Linked DNA regions of Homo sapiens: region 1 is linked to region 2. Evidence: fine-mapped expression QTL. Tissue or cell type: whole blood. Region 2 holds a variant in brackets; the other region holds the start of a gene. All regions are shown on one strand. Distances are from middle to middle.

Region 1 (8,187 bases), 46 kb after region 2:
TCCTTAAACAGTATGACAAGAAAAAATTATTTCTATTAAGAAAACAAACTATTTGTTTCTAACTGTCCCACCAGCCACATTCCAAGGACAGCGGATTCAGGTTGTTGGAGATTCTTTTCTTTCCTGGCCTTAGACATATTTAAAATGAGGACTGAGGAATCAGTGAGGGAATACAAGATTTCTATGCATAAGAAAGGCAGAAGGAGCTCAGAGAGCAGCTCCAGGGAACTGAGAACTGGAACCAGAGCTATAGAGGGCTCTGTGGGGTAAGGGCTGGGAGGCAGAGAGATGTAGGGAGGGTGCCTGGGACATGCAGTGTGCTCTCAGTAAATTCATTTGTGTGTTTAATATTTACTGAGTACCTAGTATGTTCTAGGCACTGTGTTATGTGCTAGAAATATGGCAGGAAAGAAAGAAATGAAGGAAGGAAGCCCTGTTTTCAGGGAGCTGATGTTCTAGCTGTGGGACAGAGATGCTGAACAAATATGTGCATTGGTGTTAAGCAAAATAAGGCAAAGTCAAAAGACAGGAAGAGGCAGGTAAGGTGCTGTTTTAGACAGTGTTTTCAGGGGAGCTGTCTCTGATAAATTGCATTCAAGTAGAATTTTCAAAATATAATTATAACTCTCATGCAAATATAAAATGAACACATTAGTTAATGAGGAAACTAAAAAGACATTAAGACTGTTCAAAGAGCATTTGTGTAGCTACATACTTACAAGCAATTTTATAAAGAAATACAGTAAGATTACTAGATTAGATTTTAAAATGAGAAATGCTCTCTAGTGCAATAAGAATAAACTTTGGGGTTAACTTTTCCACTGGACAGAAAGATTTGCATCTTTGTTGGACAAAAATATACAAGTTAGCCTGTGATTTCAATGCCCCAAATCTTTAAGAGTCTGAACAGGTGACATTTGTTCAGAGACCTGAGTGACATCAAGAGCAAATAGGTGAGTAGATGAAGAGTGAAGAGGGGAAGGACTGAGTGTCAAACTCCCTCCCATCTCTCTCCTACTCCATTCACTGCAAAATATTCCCTTCTCATTGATATTTGGAGGAGTGGGTTTACCTTGGGGAAATGAAAGGAAATACAGAGTCCTCTAGGCTGATGAATGATTATAGAGGATACCCTGGAGCTCAGCACATCTGGACATAAGATTAGGGAGCAAGGAACAGGGTGGGAAGGCCAGCAAAGACTCAGAGGTGAGGACACTGGGAAGAGGGTGGGCCAGCAAGTAGCTGTGTTGACTGCAGAAGATTTCACGTACTGGTTGAAGGGACTCATCTCTACTCCTCCTGTAAAAGGAGGAAAAACATAGTTATGAACTCTCGAGGGATAGTGTGAAAGGCAAGAGAATCCTTCTGTCTTTCAAATCGACATCCTCAGCATGTTCTCCCGCTGTCTCCTGGTGCTTGGGTGGCTGCTGCTGTTACACCCACAGCCATTTCCTTTAATAGGGAGGAAAAACCTTTCCTAATCCACTGTCTATCTTCCTCCCAACTTCTGCTATGTCTCACCGGCCAGAACTTGTGACCACCCTAGCGGGAAAGTAGGCTCAGAAAGTGATCTTTTTGATTTCTTAACTTCTTTATCGAAGGTGAACAAGGGAGAAGGGGGTGAGGAGTGGGAATGGATGTTGGAGCTAGTAAACCTAGGGTCTATGTGTTGTATTTCTTTTCTAATTCGGTCTCGAGGTCTCTCTCTGGGAGTGGTTATAAACGTTAGCTCTTCCGTGATGGGGCTTGGATATTTACAGTGTGCCTTCCATGGAATACTTCTTTATCCTGGCAGACGGCCTAAATCCTAGGTGTCTGACCCATGACAGGAGGTCCCTCTCACAGGAAGCTTGTTTATATTAGCAGGCACATTTGTGGCTCTTGTCTGCCCCGTGTCTGGTTTATTCCAACCAAGACAGCCACTCTCTAGGAGAGCCCTAACCAGGAAACAAGTCAGGTGTGGGTGTATAGGTCAGGTGAGACACAGAGGAGGTGAACAAAACATGTGAAATAATAGAAGCAGTTTCATTACTTACAGATCCATAATAAGAGGACAGCATGCCTCACAGGGCCAATGAGAAGGGGGACACACATGCTCAACCAGTGGGAGGGGGACGAGACAGAGAGAGGGACTTGCGGGCCAAAGCCTTCACTGTGGTCCTGGGTCCAACATCTTAGTCCCACTGTGACTAAGAGGTGGTCACTGAGGCATATCTGCAAAGTATATGTGGGGTATAGGGGTCAAGGGGATGAAGCAAGCAGCTTGTACCTGATGGTTCGATAGGGAGGTGGTCACCAGAGGCGGTCATACAAGGCAGATGTCTGGACTGACCACATAGAGGAAGTGGGAGGAGGCACAGAACTAGAGACTGTCCAGGGTGACTAAGCCCTGCTTCTAGTTTGAGAAGGTTAAACCTGTCCTCAGAATGGATAGTGAGGCCTTTGATATGTTCTCCCACCTCTTCATCAAGCATATTGACAAATCCTTTTTCACCAACTTGTCTTGCTATAACCGCCCAGTAGGTTCACCTTGCCGTCTGCCTAGATAGAGCCAATTTATCAAGACGGGGAATTGCAATAGACAAAGAATTCATGCAGAGCTGGCTGTGTGGGGGGCCAGAGTTTTATTATTACTCAAATCAGTCTCCTCCAGCAGTCGAGTTTTTAAAGACAATTTGGTGGGTGGGGAGGGGCAGTAAGTCAGGGAGTGCTGATTGGTTGGGTCGGAGATGAAACTATGGGGCATCACTGTCTTCTTGAACTGAGTCAGTTCTGGGTGGGGGTCACAAGATCAGATGGGCCAGTTTATCATCTGGGTGTTGCCAGCTGATCCATCAAGTGCAGGGTCTGCAAAACATCTGAAGCACTGATCTCAGGAGCAGTTTAGGGAGGGTCAGAATCTTGTGGCCTCCAGCTGCATGACTCCCAAACCATAATTTCTAATCTTGTGGCTAATGTTGGTAGTCTAGACCCCAGGCAAGAAGGAGGTTGGTTTTGGGAAAGGGCTTTTATTGTTTTTGTTTTAAACTGTAAATTATAAACTAATTTCCTTCCAAAGTTAGTTCAGCCTATGCCCAGGAATGAACAAGGATAGCATGGAGGTTAAGGACAAGATGGAGTTGGTTAAATTGGATCTCTTTAACTGCCTTAGTCATAATTTTGCAAAGGCAGTTTCATTGCTACCTGAATGATTTTCCTAACTTATCCATCAATCTCCTGGAAGCCTTTCTCCTTAACCAATGTCTTCAACTCTGCCAGACATGTGGCAGCTTCTTCATCAGCAGATGTGGCCTCTCCAGTTATTTTTATGTTTTTCAGTCCAAACCTATTCCTGAATCTGTGTAGCCATCCCTTACTTGCAGTAAATAGCTTGGTGTGCCTAATTTCAGGGGATCCCTTTCTTAAGTCTTCCTATAGGCTCAACACTTTCTGGCAAAACTTACTGCGGTCAGCTGAAATACGTTTTCTGTTCATGTCTCCCACCCACAAATGTAATGCCTTTTCCGTCTTTTGCTGTTGCACCTCAAACTACAAAAGTTACAGCCACAGTGCATGATAGGTGCTTAGTTAACTAGCACGAATCTTTTTCCTTCTTCACAATTTCATGGATAATTTGTTCTTATCATAGATTTTGGCAACCTCAGCATATGACTCTTTTTCTTTCCTTATTAAGTCCAGAGCTTTCACCTTTTCATTTAAAGGAAGCACTTTACAGCTTCTCCTCGGCATATCCAAATTGTCAGCACAATTCCTGTGCTTTGCGGCCATTATTAAGTAAAATAAGGGTTACCTGAACATAAGCAGGTGGTATCTCTCATTATCTCTGCTATACTACGGGTGCATCTGTTAACCAAAGCAGCTACTGAGTGGGTAATGAGTGGATACTGTACACAGCGCGGCTACCTGCGACAGATGATTCGCGTCAAGGGTGGGACAGAGTGGATGGCCCGAGATTTAATCGGGCTACTCAGAATACAGGCGGTTTGAAACTTAAGAATTGTTTATTTCTGGAGTTTTCCATTTAACATTTCTGAACCAAGGTTTGACCACAGGTAACTGACACTGCAGAAAGCATGGAGGGGGGCAAAACTACTGCATTAATATTAAAATTTTCAAATATTACTTTTTGCTAAATGAAATGTGATTCAGGACCTTCCCTCTCAAAGATCAAGCGAGATCACCACGACCTCCGCCAGCAGCGGCTCTGCACGACTCCACCCTCGCAGCCCAGCCAATCAAAGCTACAGGTTGAGTGACGTCACTCTCCTGAAAGTCCTCGCTAATTCCCGTACTCCTTTTCTCCGCCCTGCACCTCTACTGTTTGCTACAAGTGGCCAGCAGCCATTTTGGATTTGGGCGGAAATGAAATTAAAACTGTGCTGTTAAAAGCCTAAAAATTCAAGTCAAGACAAACTTAAGCATTCGACCAACACATCTAGAAAGGGGGCATCTTCGTGGACTAACTAGACCACTGGGGCAGTGAGTGAAACTCGGTATCGTCGCGGCGCCCACACTTAAGATGGCACCGGCCTGAGACTCAGCTGTGCGGCCTCTCTACCTCGGTTCCTGGTTAGTTGGCCTCATTGGTGGCGTCGGAGGGAGGAAGGTGGGCCTTCTGTCCCGTTTCCGGACCCGTCTCTATGGTGTAGGAGAAACCCGGCCCCCAGAAGATTGTGGGTGTAGTGGCCACAGCCTTACAGGCAGGCAGGGGTGGTTGGTGTCAACAGGGGGGCCAACAGGGTACCAGAGCCAAGACCCTCGGCCTCCTCCCCCGCCGCCTTCCTGCAGGTAACAGGGAGCCCTGCGCTGCGCCCCCAGTCCTTGCAGGACTGCGCCGTGGGGGAAGGGGCCGGGCGGGGAGGAGGCGGCGGGCGCGCGCCCCGCTCGCGGGTCTGCGCTCTGGGGCCCGCGCGGGAGCGAGCTCGGCGCGGCGCCGGCGGCCGGTTGAGCTGTGCTCTCAGCTTCGGAGCAGCCTCCCCTTGCTGATTGTGGGGCGCCCTGTAATCTGCGCTTCGCGGGCGGCCCCCGACGGGTGAGGCGCCCGCGGCCAGAGCTCTCCAAGGCGGCCGCGGAGTCGGTCCTCGCAGGGAGGTGTGGAAGGTGAGGGGCCAGCGAAGCGAGAGCGGCGCCTCGGCCCTTCAGTGACCCCGCGGGGTCGCGGCAAGCAGGGCGAGGGTGCTCGGCTGGGCGGGTCACTGTCCCGGGGCGGCAGTGCCCGAGCCCGGGGGGATCCTGGGGGCGCGCCCGCCCTCGGGAAGGCGGCCTCATTCTTGATCCAAGACCAGTGCCCGTCCCCCAAGGCCCAGCTGGCTCCTGTCTTGGCATAGTGCTTTCTGTTTAGAATAAAGATGAAACATTTCTCGGAAGAGCATATTCAGGAATCCATGTGAAATTCTCGGAGTCGGGTCTCGAATTTTGGGGGTCACTGTTAACTGCTGTTTTTAGGGACCCATGTTCTTATAAAATGTATCTTGAGCTGAAATCACAATTATTTTGGTCCATAAAGACTTAATTGTGTATTGCTTGTCAGCTAGCAATGCTGGACTGAGTTCCGCAGAGGGAATATATACCTGAAACACGAAAGCAAGGGCCGGAGTAACGTTACCGCTGGATACCAGAATATCAGCCAGTACAGTGCATCCTTAATACTCAGAGTGCAAGCCATTATCTTTGGAACTTTCAAGCTAAGGGAGCTAGGACCAAGGTAGTCTCGAGTAATTGCTGGGAAAAGAAAATATTTGGTAGAAACATTTCCATAGAGCACACGGGTTTCTTAGTTGAGTGTATGAGTTGCCCTTTGACCTAGACAAGGGTTTTCTTAATCTACAAGCGGTCCAGAAATTTTATGTGCTGCCCAAGTAGGCAAAAGAGTGGAGGGAGATTATTAAAGGGAAGACTGATGCATATTCAAGTCAGAGACTGTCAACTCAGCATTTTATTATAGAGTGGAGATGCTAAGTGCTACGAAATACCTATTACGGGATACTAGGATATCCTTTTCTACCTTCTTGTGACTTTTTAATTTCAAAGCTAATGAGCAAGATTTTGTGTTTTCCCCGTCCTCAAAACAACAGGAAAGCATTTTGGAAGGCCAAGTGTTTTTCTTACATTTCAATAAATCAATTTTAGCTGAATTATCATTTTTAAAGCACTGGCGGGCATGGTGGCACATGCCTGTAATCTCAGCAACTAGGGAGGCTGGGGAGGGCAGGTAGCTTGAGCCCAGGAATTCCAGGTTACAGTGAGATAGGATAGCGCCAATGCACTCTAGGCCAGCAGCAACAGAACAAGACCATATCTCTATTTAAAACAAAAAACAAACAAAAAAACTTCTTCATATAACAGTATTTGTGCTTCTTTAGATATATTAGTGTGAAGAATTACTGCTTCAAAACATTCTCAAATTGCAATAATCAGCACACCTTTTTAATTTTCCCCCAATAAAGTTTGCACTGGGAACATACAATATAATCTTACCACTGTCAGTATTACACTGATGGTATCAGTGGACTTCTGTCAAAGTTAACATGCTTTCAAAACAAGAAAATGGCATCCTTTCCAGTTCTCTCAAGAAATTGAGTCATCCCTTTTTAATTTTTAAGTGATTTTTTTAGTCTTAGACCTAAAATACAGTAAGAAAAATGAATTTTAACTACTTCCTAATGCTTTTATAACTTTGTTAATTATAGTGGAATTCATATGAAATCTAAGGTTAATAGCTATTGCAAGGCCAATGTTCCCACAAGGAAGTATTTTGCTATTTAGAAATAGCTAAGTAAATTAAATGTTCCTTTCTCTTGCCTCTGGTGACTGCCATTCATCAGCCAGAGCACTGACCCTGAATCCTGGTGGCAGTCTTATCTCCCATGAGGATTAATATTAACACTTAAATAAACAGCATGATTTCCTGCGAAGAAGATATTCATTAATATACAGTCCCTTATTCTCTGCTTTTCTCTTAATTGTGTGTTGATTTTGGAAAGCTGTGTTTTGTGGGTGAGAGAGAGACGGTCAGACTAGCTTCAGATACTTTCAAAGTAACACTTCTGTAACTCACTCTTCCAGTCTGACTGGCTTTTCAGGCAGGAGTTGGAGACCAAGTAGAGCTTTCTGCCTATGAAATGGCAATTAGTTTCAAAGAACATAGACCCATTCAAGTTACCTGAGGAAAAGGGGGCTGGTTGTAAGGGTGTCAATGGGATGTTAGGGTATCTGGGTGGAATTAGATTTGAGGCTGGGCTTCCGGTAGTCTTGAGATGGATAGTAGTAATGTGCCCCCTAAGTATGACTAAGCTACGGTCCCAGTGTTTGCTTTTTAAAATTTTACTACCAACTGACTTCCTCTGGAAAGTTTCTGACTTCATGTGGCTTTGGTTTGCCGTAGCTCCACCTCCACCTCATAGCATCCTTCTACCTTCGGCTATGCTTCTAATAGGCAAAAATTGTTCTTAGTTCAAATTCCTGGGGGAGACAATGATCTGGCCAGTTTATCTCTTCACTCAGGCCATGAAATTGATGGCTAATTTGTGAATTAACCGCCCTTTGGCCCAGGATAGGTACCTGCCAACATTAACTGTGCCCAAGAAGAGGTGGCAAGATCAAGTGCTAAGCATAATCCTCCCTACTCAGCAGGAGGTTGTGACAATCTGGCCAGCACTCTATCTCCAGAACAGAGGGATTAGCATTGTTGCTTTTACCCATGGTCCCACATAAACTTTTTATTTGTAGTCCCAGTAGAAAGGTGAATGTTACCATAGTTGCCATACTTGGCATTTCTTTTAGTACTGTTTTTTGCTTCTCTGTCATTTTTAAGAAAGATACATTGCCAGGTAGGTAGGAATTCAGTGAATTTGTTACAAAGCAGATTTAGTTCTTATTCTCAGCAACATTTTTAGATTTTGAAAATCTTCAATTTTAGATAGCTTTAGCCTTTATACATGTGTTTCTTATATAACGATGGTTGTGGATCGGTAGGCACTTTAAATTTTGTTCTAGGCATGTGTTTTGAGCAGCATTACATACCCAGTGTAGAAGGTGTTGTATGGAATTTCACCGAAGTGGGGAAAAATTCCAAGTAGAGGGTCAATGTGTAATGATTATTGAGTTTATATTTGTCCAAAGAATACAGATTTTAAACAAATTTTTAAAGGCCTACATAGAATTATTGGCCGTATTTGTAGCAGTTTG
Region 2 (8,187 bases):
ACCTGCTTGCTGTAAGGAGCTACCCACTGCAGATCTCCTCTCTGCTGAGAGCTGGACACTCATCAGGCCGCCTGCAGAAAGGAGCTACTACTTTGGGTCTCCTGAGAGCTGTTCTGTCACTCAATGGAGCTCCTCTTCCCCTTTGCTTACCCTCCAGTTGTCCACTTAACCTCATTCTTCCTGGATGGGAAACAAGAACCTGGGACCTGAATGGCAGGACTCAAAGAGCTGTAACACAAACGGGGCTGAAACACGTCGCCCCCACTCACCATGTTGTGGGAAACGAGAAGGAGGGAAGAGCTGTGGCTCTTCCAAGAGCCCAGACGTAGTTGCTCCTGAGCCAGGGATGTGACACCCTCTGTGGGGCTCTGCGGTTCCCAGTTTCTCCAGGTTTCTGGGCGCCTCTGTGTTTCCCTCATCCAGACGCAGTTGCTCAGAGCAGAAGCTGCGTGCGGTACATCTGGTCCATCTGCAGCCTCACACAGAGCCAGCACCTGTACCAGTGCCTGGAGCTAACCACCCTGCCATAGTAGCCAGTCAGCCAGCATGCCTGCTGTGCGTGGTGACCAGACCCTGCGCTTGGTCACCCACACAACCTCGCCGCTCCACACCTGGCTAACCCTTGGCAGGTGTGGGATCCAGGTTGGTAGCTCAAGCTGAGCACAGCCTATCGGGCCTAGTGGGCAGAACGAGCCCAGCGGGCGCAAACAATACTCAGGGAGAAGGTGCCGCCAGCCACAATGGTTTCTGGGTGGCAAAGCAACACCCCAAGGATCCTGTGACATTAGGACTTTGACTTAGTAGAAGAAATTCAGCATAATTGAGTCTATAAATTTAAAACGTAACCCGAATATGACTGGAACCTTTAAAAATGTTAACATGTCAATTATGGTACAGCTTTGTACTAGAAAAAATGACACAGAAGCCAATCCAGTTGTGTCTGGCAAGTTAATTATATCATCACCATTTAAGAGTGATTATCTAGTGTTAAACGTCATATACTTTTCACATGTATTGCATTTTTGTTGGCTTTACAGATAGAAATTAGTTGTAAATTTAAATGGAAAGAAAGAAAGTCTTTAAGCAAGGATGACGGTTCTTATGACATATTTGACCTAGAAATGCTCTTATTGTAAAAAACAAAAATGATTTTTAAGGTAATATAATGCAAATTACCGTCATAAAGGCTTGCTCCTTCATATTATAATGAGAATAACAAAATTGTATATAATTGGTTAATAAGCATCACTATTCCCCCTTAAAAAAATAAGGGAGAGAAATAGAGCATGTCATCTTTTATTTCCTTTAAATATGAGTGTAATGATATTGAGCTTACTCCTTAACTCAGGGATATTTTCTAATTTAAGGTAGATTTAATCTAGCCTATTGTTGTCTTGATTGATTTAACAATGTAATTTAACTATTTATGAACAGTTGTTAGATTTCTTATATTAGAAATATTAGATATTTTTTCTAAGATATTTGTTTTTTAAGAAACAGCTAAAACCTAGGGCCTACAGGTTTTCAAATGTAATTTTAAATGTAATATTAATTCCCATAATCTCCATATTGCCCATAGTCTTTACAGATGTGCTATTACAAATAGCTTACTCCTCAGATATGAGCCATATGGGCTCTGTAAACTGATTTGCACTTATTCTGAATAGGAATTATACAGATTGTAGATGAATTATTAAGTAAATTTATATTACCAAATAAATCTAAGAATAAAATATTAAGCTGTATTAAATGAGAAAGGAATCTGCAAATGAAGACCTACCTGCGTTAATAAGTTTAGTGGTTACCTTCTTGGTTTCAATCAAAAGAAATTAGTTTTTTGTTGTTGTGTTTTTTAAAGGGGTGGGGGGGGGCGTCTTTAAAACTGCTTACGGAAGTATCTAAGACAAAAACAAGGAAATATAATGTTATAAACTCAGCCAGTCCAAACCACTTGAACTGCTATGACAGCTCATAAAACTGAGAGTAGTTTTTAACTGGGCTCTGTTCTACATTGCCAAAGTGAATTTTCCTTGCAGGAAGTAGCCAGAGGGTTTATTTAGTTTCCAGTCCATGGCTTTGATCTTTCTGTACTGTCACATCTTGGGTTACATAGCCCTTTTTCACTGCAGTAAATCTGCAGCAGTTAATGAGAATAAAATTTCCTCCTTACTGATCACATTCTGTTGAATGCCAAACCACAGCCAACTGCATATTTGCAGAATTTCAGCTACAATGTATGAAAACAGCACAATCAGTTTAATCTTGTTTTCTTTGCAATTCATTTTATTGGGCTTTCTTCCTTTTCAAGTGACCTACTTTATCCAGTCAAGTGGTTGCAGGCCAAACTTGGAAGAAAGATTTAAAATGTGAATAAACTAAGAGGAGAAGGTGTGCAGGAGGTGGGCCAGGGGAGGGCAAGTGGAAGTCCGTCTGCACTGCCGTGAAGATTCCAAGACTCCATAAATTGAGTTTATTTTAATCCTTTTTAAAGACCAAGCCTTTTTTTCTTTTTTCTCCTCAAATAAAATAAAATGGTTTGTTATTTCTTTAGTTATTTTGTATGTTTAGTTTCAACATAAGTTTGTACTTACTGAGTTTATTTAATGAGTCATAACATTATTTTTCAGTTTTCATTATAGAGAAGACACCACAGTACTTAAGGAAATTTAAGGGAATTTCAAGGATTTCAAAAAATTGAAGTTTCACTTTATAAGAGCTCTTCTTAGAGTAAAAATAACATTGTTGTTAACACACACTATACCATCTTATCAAATGGGTCCTTACAAACATAAAGGAAATACTATGAATATGTTGAATAAATCAATAGAATTTCAAAATCACATTTAAGCAAGCTGAATTTTATACATTAATATGTGCATCCTCATAGTAAAGTACATAAAGAATCATATTTATTTTCTTTTTTGTTACAATGAAACCTCTCAATTGAGGCATTAATTACCTGATTCAGTTAATACAGGTTAAATATATTTTTTACTTACACCTCTTATCTTTTCTACTGCTTTGTTTTTGTGGTTGGCAACTGGAAGTTAGCAACTTCTTTGTCAAGAAATTCACCCTCAGGGGGCCATCTTGGGTGATAGTCATTGATAAATATATTTTATTGTATATTTATATTAGGTCAAATTTATATATGGAAATATGAAATTTTATAAAATAAATCAAAAAAGGAAATCAGCTTATATTTTCCCAGAAGATTGAAGTCACAGTTACTGTTTAGCCATCTAATTTCACAGAAAAAATTATTCTCATCCTCATAAAAATCAAAATGTTGAGATAAAGAAAAAATATGTAATATTTATTGATTTAGACAACTACCATAAAAGCAATAACCAAAAGTGTATTGAGAACTCAGAAGACTGTTTCTGAATTGGGGACAGTAAAGTCAGATCTCCTGATAAAAAGAGGATCCACTTTTGGGGAAATGCCTGTTGTTAGTTACCCCAATACAAGAGGAGGGTAAGAGGAGTGGTTTGAACATTTTAAAGGAAAGAGGTGCAGCACTCACAGGGCCTTTTCAGAAGGTATTAGGTATAATGTTAGAATGTTGAACTTTCAAAATGTAGCTTATACTCTTAGAATTGTTTTCAAATAGACCTATGTCTACTTAAATTGTAACATAATAGTTTGCATGTGAAAAAAAGATGAAGATGAAAACAGAATTTTAGACTTTATCTGAGGGCCTTTTCTATAGTTTGCTTCTTCGTTTCTTTGCAACTTTAAATCTGCCCAAAATTCTAACCTTGCAAGTCCACAGAAAGTTTCTTCATGAAGTAAACATTGTTTTCTTCAGTTTTTGTTGTCTTTAAACACACACACACACACACACACACACACACACACACACACACATAATTCTTAAACAAGTGCAACTGCTCAAAAGAATTTGTTTTGGGGACATGAACAGTCCAGTAGAGTTTTAAATGAAACTGCTGGAAAGGAGTAGAAACAATGCTGACTTCAGTGACATACACAATCTTTATTCTAATTGTATTATTTTAAATGGTATTCTCT[A/G]AATCAGGGGTCCCCAACTCCCAGGCCAGTACCTGTCCATGGCCTGTTGGGAACTTGGCCACACAGCAGGAGGTGAGTAGCAGGCCAGCAAACCTTACTGCCTAAGCTCCACCTCCTGTTGCATGAGCAGCGGCATTAGATTCTTATAGGCGCACAAACCCTATTGTGAACTCTGCATGCTAGGGATCTATGTTGTGTGCTCCTTATGAGGATCTAACTAATGCTTGATGATCTGAGGTGGAACAGTTTCATCCCAAAATCGTCTCTCCTCCCCCATGTATGGAAAAATTCTTCCACACAACCAGTACCTGGTGCCAAAAAGGTTCGGGGCTGCTGCTCTAAATGGTTTCAGATCTATGTACAATATGAGATAGATGGACCAATAATGATGATGGCAATTATTGAAATATATTTAGTGAGTTCCAGGCAGTTTATGAATTGCTATTTATTACATCCCTTATCTAATTTACTCTTCACAACAGCTGAAGAAGGGAGACACTATTATTAAGAAAACTGAAGCATGTAGGTTTAAGCAACTTACCCCAGGTTATCTTGCCACCACTCAATCAATAAACTATTCTTACCTTTGCCCACCTTTCTTCTATTACAATGAAAGAAGTTTTTTCAAAATCCAATAAACCCATTTTTACTCTAGACCCCATTCTTGTCTTTTCAAGGACTTCTTTTATGTTGTCACTCTTTTCCCCTTTACTGGATCATTCCTGTCAACATATAAACATAAATCAGAATCTGCAAAGTTAAACTCTTTGGCCCCACATCATATTCCAACTGCTTCCTGTTTCTCAATTCCCTTTATCCAAAACTTCTCAAAAGACTTGCATGTGCTCTTCAACTTCCCCACTCTTGTCAAAATCACCAATAGTCTTCATATTGCCAAATCTAATGGACCATTCTCATCTTTACCTCTCAGCTGGTTTTGACACAGTTGACCAGGCCCTGCTTTTTGAAACTCCCTTCTTTCAGCTCTCAAGATACCCCATTTTTCTGATTTTCCTCCTAAGCCCTTTGTCATTTCTTCCCAATGTTCTTTGCTGGCCATTCCTTCTCTTTTCCACATTTAAATGCTGGTTACTTCAGGGCTATATCCCTGTTCTCTATCCATACCCTGTTTTGGGGGACCCTCTTTTCTAACTGCACCCACCACACCTAGGATTACATCCAGATCCATGGCTTTAAGTACCATTTGTAAACCTATATTTTTAGCTTAGACTTGTCCTCTCAGCACCATCCTTATTCCTTATGCTATCAAATTGAATGTTTAATAAAATTATCAAACTTAACTTTTGATTTCTCACATATAAACAGGTTCCTCCCTTAATCTTCTCGTCTCAGTATGTGTCACCACCATCCCACCTAGTAGTTCAAGCTTTAAACTTTGGAATCTTCCTTATTATCTCCCTTTTCTTCACCATTACCCTCTCTCTCCACTGCAAACCATCTGCATGCCCTGTTGTTTTCATTTCATTTCTGGAATAGATCTGAAATTTGGCTATTTATTTCCATTTTCACTGTTAGTACCCTATTCCATGCCACCATCATCTGCCACCTGAACCACTCAATAGCCTAATTAATTTTCCTGTTTCTGCACTTCCCTTCTGCTTCATTTTTTCCACAGTAGCCATAATGATCTTTTTCAAGTATGTCATATCACGTCTCTCACGTGCCTTCAATGGCTTCCCATACTCCTGTAATAAAATACAAATTTCTTACCATGTTCTATAAAGTCCTTCATTATTTGACACTTATCTACATCTCCAGCCTCATCAAATATTCCAGTTATAATTGCTTGTTAATTCTACCCACTCTGGACTCCCTTCTCTTCCCCAGACATTCACCAAGTTCTTTCGCACTTTGTCACCTTTGTGCTTAACTGGAATAGTCTTTTGACTTTTTAAATAACTGGCTTCTTCTTACCTTTCAAGTCTCAGTTCAAATATTCCTTCTTCAGAGAATCTTTTCCTAAGAGAATTATCAAAGAAGCTGCTTCTCCCTCATCTAACCTAGTAATTTAATTTTTGTTCACTTGTTTATTCTCCCTCCTACCACAAGAATACAGTCTCTAGATGGGCAAGAACTTTGACTGTCTTTTTCAAAGTTCTATCTACTGGCACCACTAGGTTCTCAATAGACGTTTGTTTAATAGAAGTTTTAAAGGTCAGAGCCAGTATTCAGACATAGATGTCTTACTCCATTTCCCATGCTGTTTCATTTTCAATGTGAACTTTTTTATAATTTCTTAATTTTAATTTTTACTATTTCAGTATCCTTTCAAATGTACAATGCATACCATCTATTAAATATATAATCAAATAGATGTGTATTATATATCCTGCTTATAGTATCATATGCTTTGTATTATAAAATTGTTGATAGGAGCCTATGCTATATGGGAAAATTTTTTAATAACCTAGGTAAGATAAAAACAGACCTTAAGTAGCTATATTTTACATAGATGAAGATGCTTGCCTTCATAATTAAGATCCAGTTAAGGGATTCGTAGTGTACTTGTATTATACTACTACAAGTCTAATTAAATATACTGAGAAACACCCATCTAAGCACAGTCTCTATCATAGAAAAATTTTATTTTATTTTCAAAAGCAACTCTTATAATGTCCCAATATTACAAGTGTGTAAAATCATATTTCTAGTCCATCTACTTTAATCTAGCCTAAAGAAACATTATAGGTTCACCATAACAGAGGAAGAAATAATATGATTAGTATTCAATATCTCATTAATAATAGCAATAACCAACTGACTAGAATTGCAAAATAATTATTTTCTTGGAGTTATATTTTTCATGGAGAAAGATCAGTAGAAAACATGCTTGGAAGTCACATAATTTCAGTTATAGTCAATTTCATTGCTGATTTGTTGTAAATTTTGTGTTGCACCTGGAGGAATGGCTCCATGTTTAAACATCAGGGAGTATTTGTATTAAGAATTTTTACTGCTGTATCTTTAGAGGATGGTGTAACTTTAGAAGATGGTTATGACTTTAGAGGATCTTAAAGTTGGTTGTATCTTTGGAGGATCTTAAAGTTGTATCTTTAGACTTGTATCTTAAAGTTATATCTTTAGTTGGTTGTATTTTTAGAGTATCTTTAGAGGATAATCAGAATATTTTAAAAATCTGTATTAGTTTTCATAGTCCAATAGCTTAAGTTCTGTAGCAACAAATACTACTCCATACTTAAAATGAATAGAGTTTCCTTGTTCATGTTTCTTTCCTATTACCAGGTTATAACTAATGGTCTGTTAGTAGTCAATAAATGATAAAAATAGCATATATACTGTTGGGATTTTTATGTTGTTATTGCTGCTCTTTCCAAAAGATACTTATAATTTTACTTAAAGTTTCTGTGATGACAGGTGAAATTAACTTTATAAAGCACAAAATATAGGATAAAATATAGAATCATTTAATGTTTGCTTTTAACACTTAAAATTTCCTTTATTCATAACCTTTTTAGTTGACAAGCACTTGGATGAGGTCTAGGGATATGGAGGTCGGTAAGAAATAATCTCATTCTCTTTAAGAGGCTTATATAGTTCAGGGTTAAAAATATAATTTTTTGAGATGAGTTAAAGCATTCTCTTTATTATTCTTTCAGCTTTCTGTTTTGAAAATATTTAAGGGTAATAGTATTATCAGGCTTATAAAAGTAATACTACATTGTCAGTATCTGGACATCAATGGTCTTTTACCTGTTTCTGCCCACTTTTATGTTACTCCAATATGTTGAGTAATATATATATATATAATATATATTCCTCTAAAAATTAAGGAGAACTCAGATGTTTAAGATGTTTATTCTAGTGTAAATAGAATAAATAATATTTGTCTATTGGAAATATTTCCAGCAGAATAAACATCTTAAACATTTCTGAATTCTCCTTAATTTTAAGAGGAAACAGAATTAATGATATTTAGAAAAGAATGCCACATTATCTTAAATAATACTCCCCCTCATTTTTTGTAAAGAGCATGCTATGTGGAGTGTGTCATTCATTGACTTACTTCTAGTACAAAAACACAGACCTTTAGTATCTTCTTATACACACACACAAAATTTAGAGAATGTGAATTTTCTTAGAAAAAAAGTAAGTAGGTTCAGATTTTATAGCACT

Evidence for each region. PIP is the estimated chance that this variant, and not a neighbour inherited with it, causes the effect.
Region 1: it holds the start of SCYL3, and the variant in region 2 is fine-mapped to the expression of SCYL3 in whole blood (INTERVAL, PIP above 0.99).

What each region holds. Positions count from the first base shown.
Region 1 is chr1:169,890,389-169,898,575 of GRCh38, reverse strand. It overlaps SCYL3 (SCY1 like pseudokinase 3), which reads left to right and starts at 4,680. Exons shown (of 13, transcript NM_020423.7): 1 at 4,680-4,788. RefSeq lists enhancers at 4,253-4,662, 4,337-4,924, 4,925-5,512 and silencers at 4,863-4,942, 5,183-5,242.
Region 2 is chr1:169,936,595-169,944,781 of GRCh38, reverse strand. All of the region lies in intron 19 of KIFAP3 (kinesin associated protein 3), which reads left to right. Among named protein-coding and RNA genes, the nearest start is that of SCYL3, 47 kb to the right of the region's middle. RefSeq lists an enhancer at 844-3,527. The variant A/G (reference allele first, on the strand shown) is at 4,033.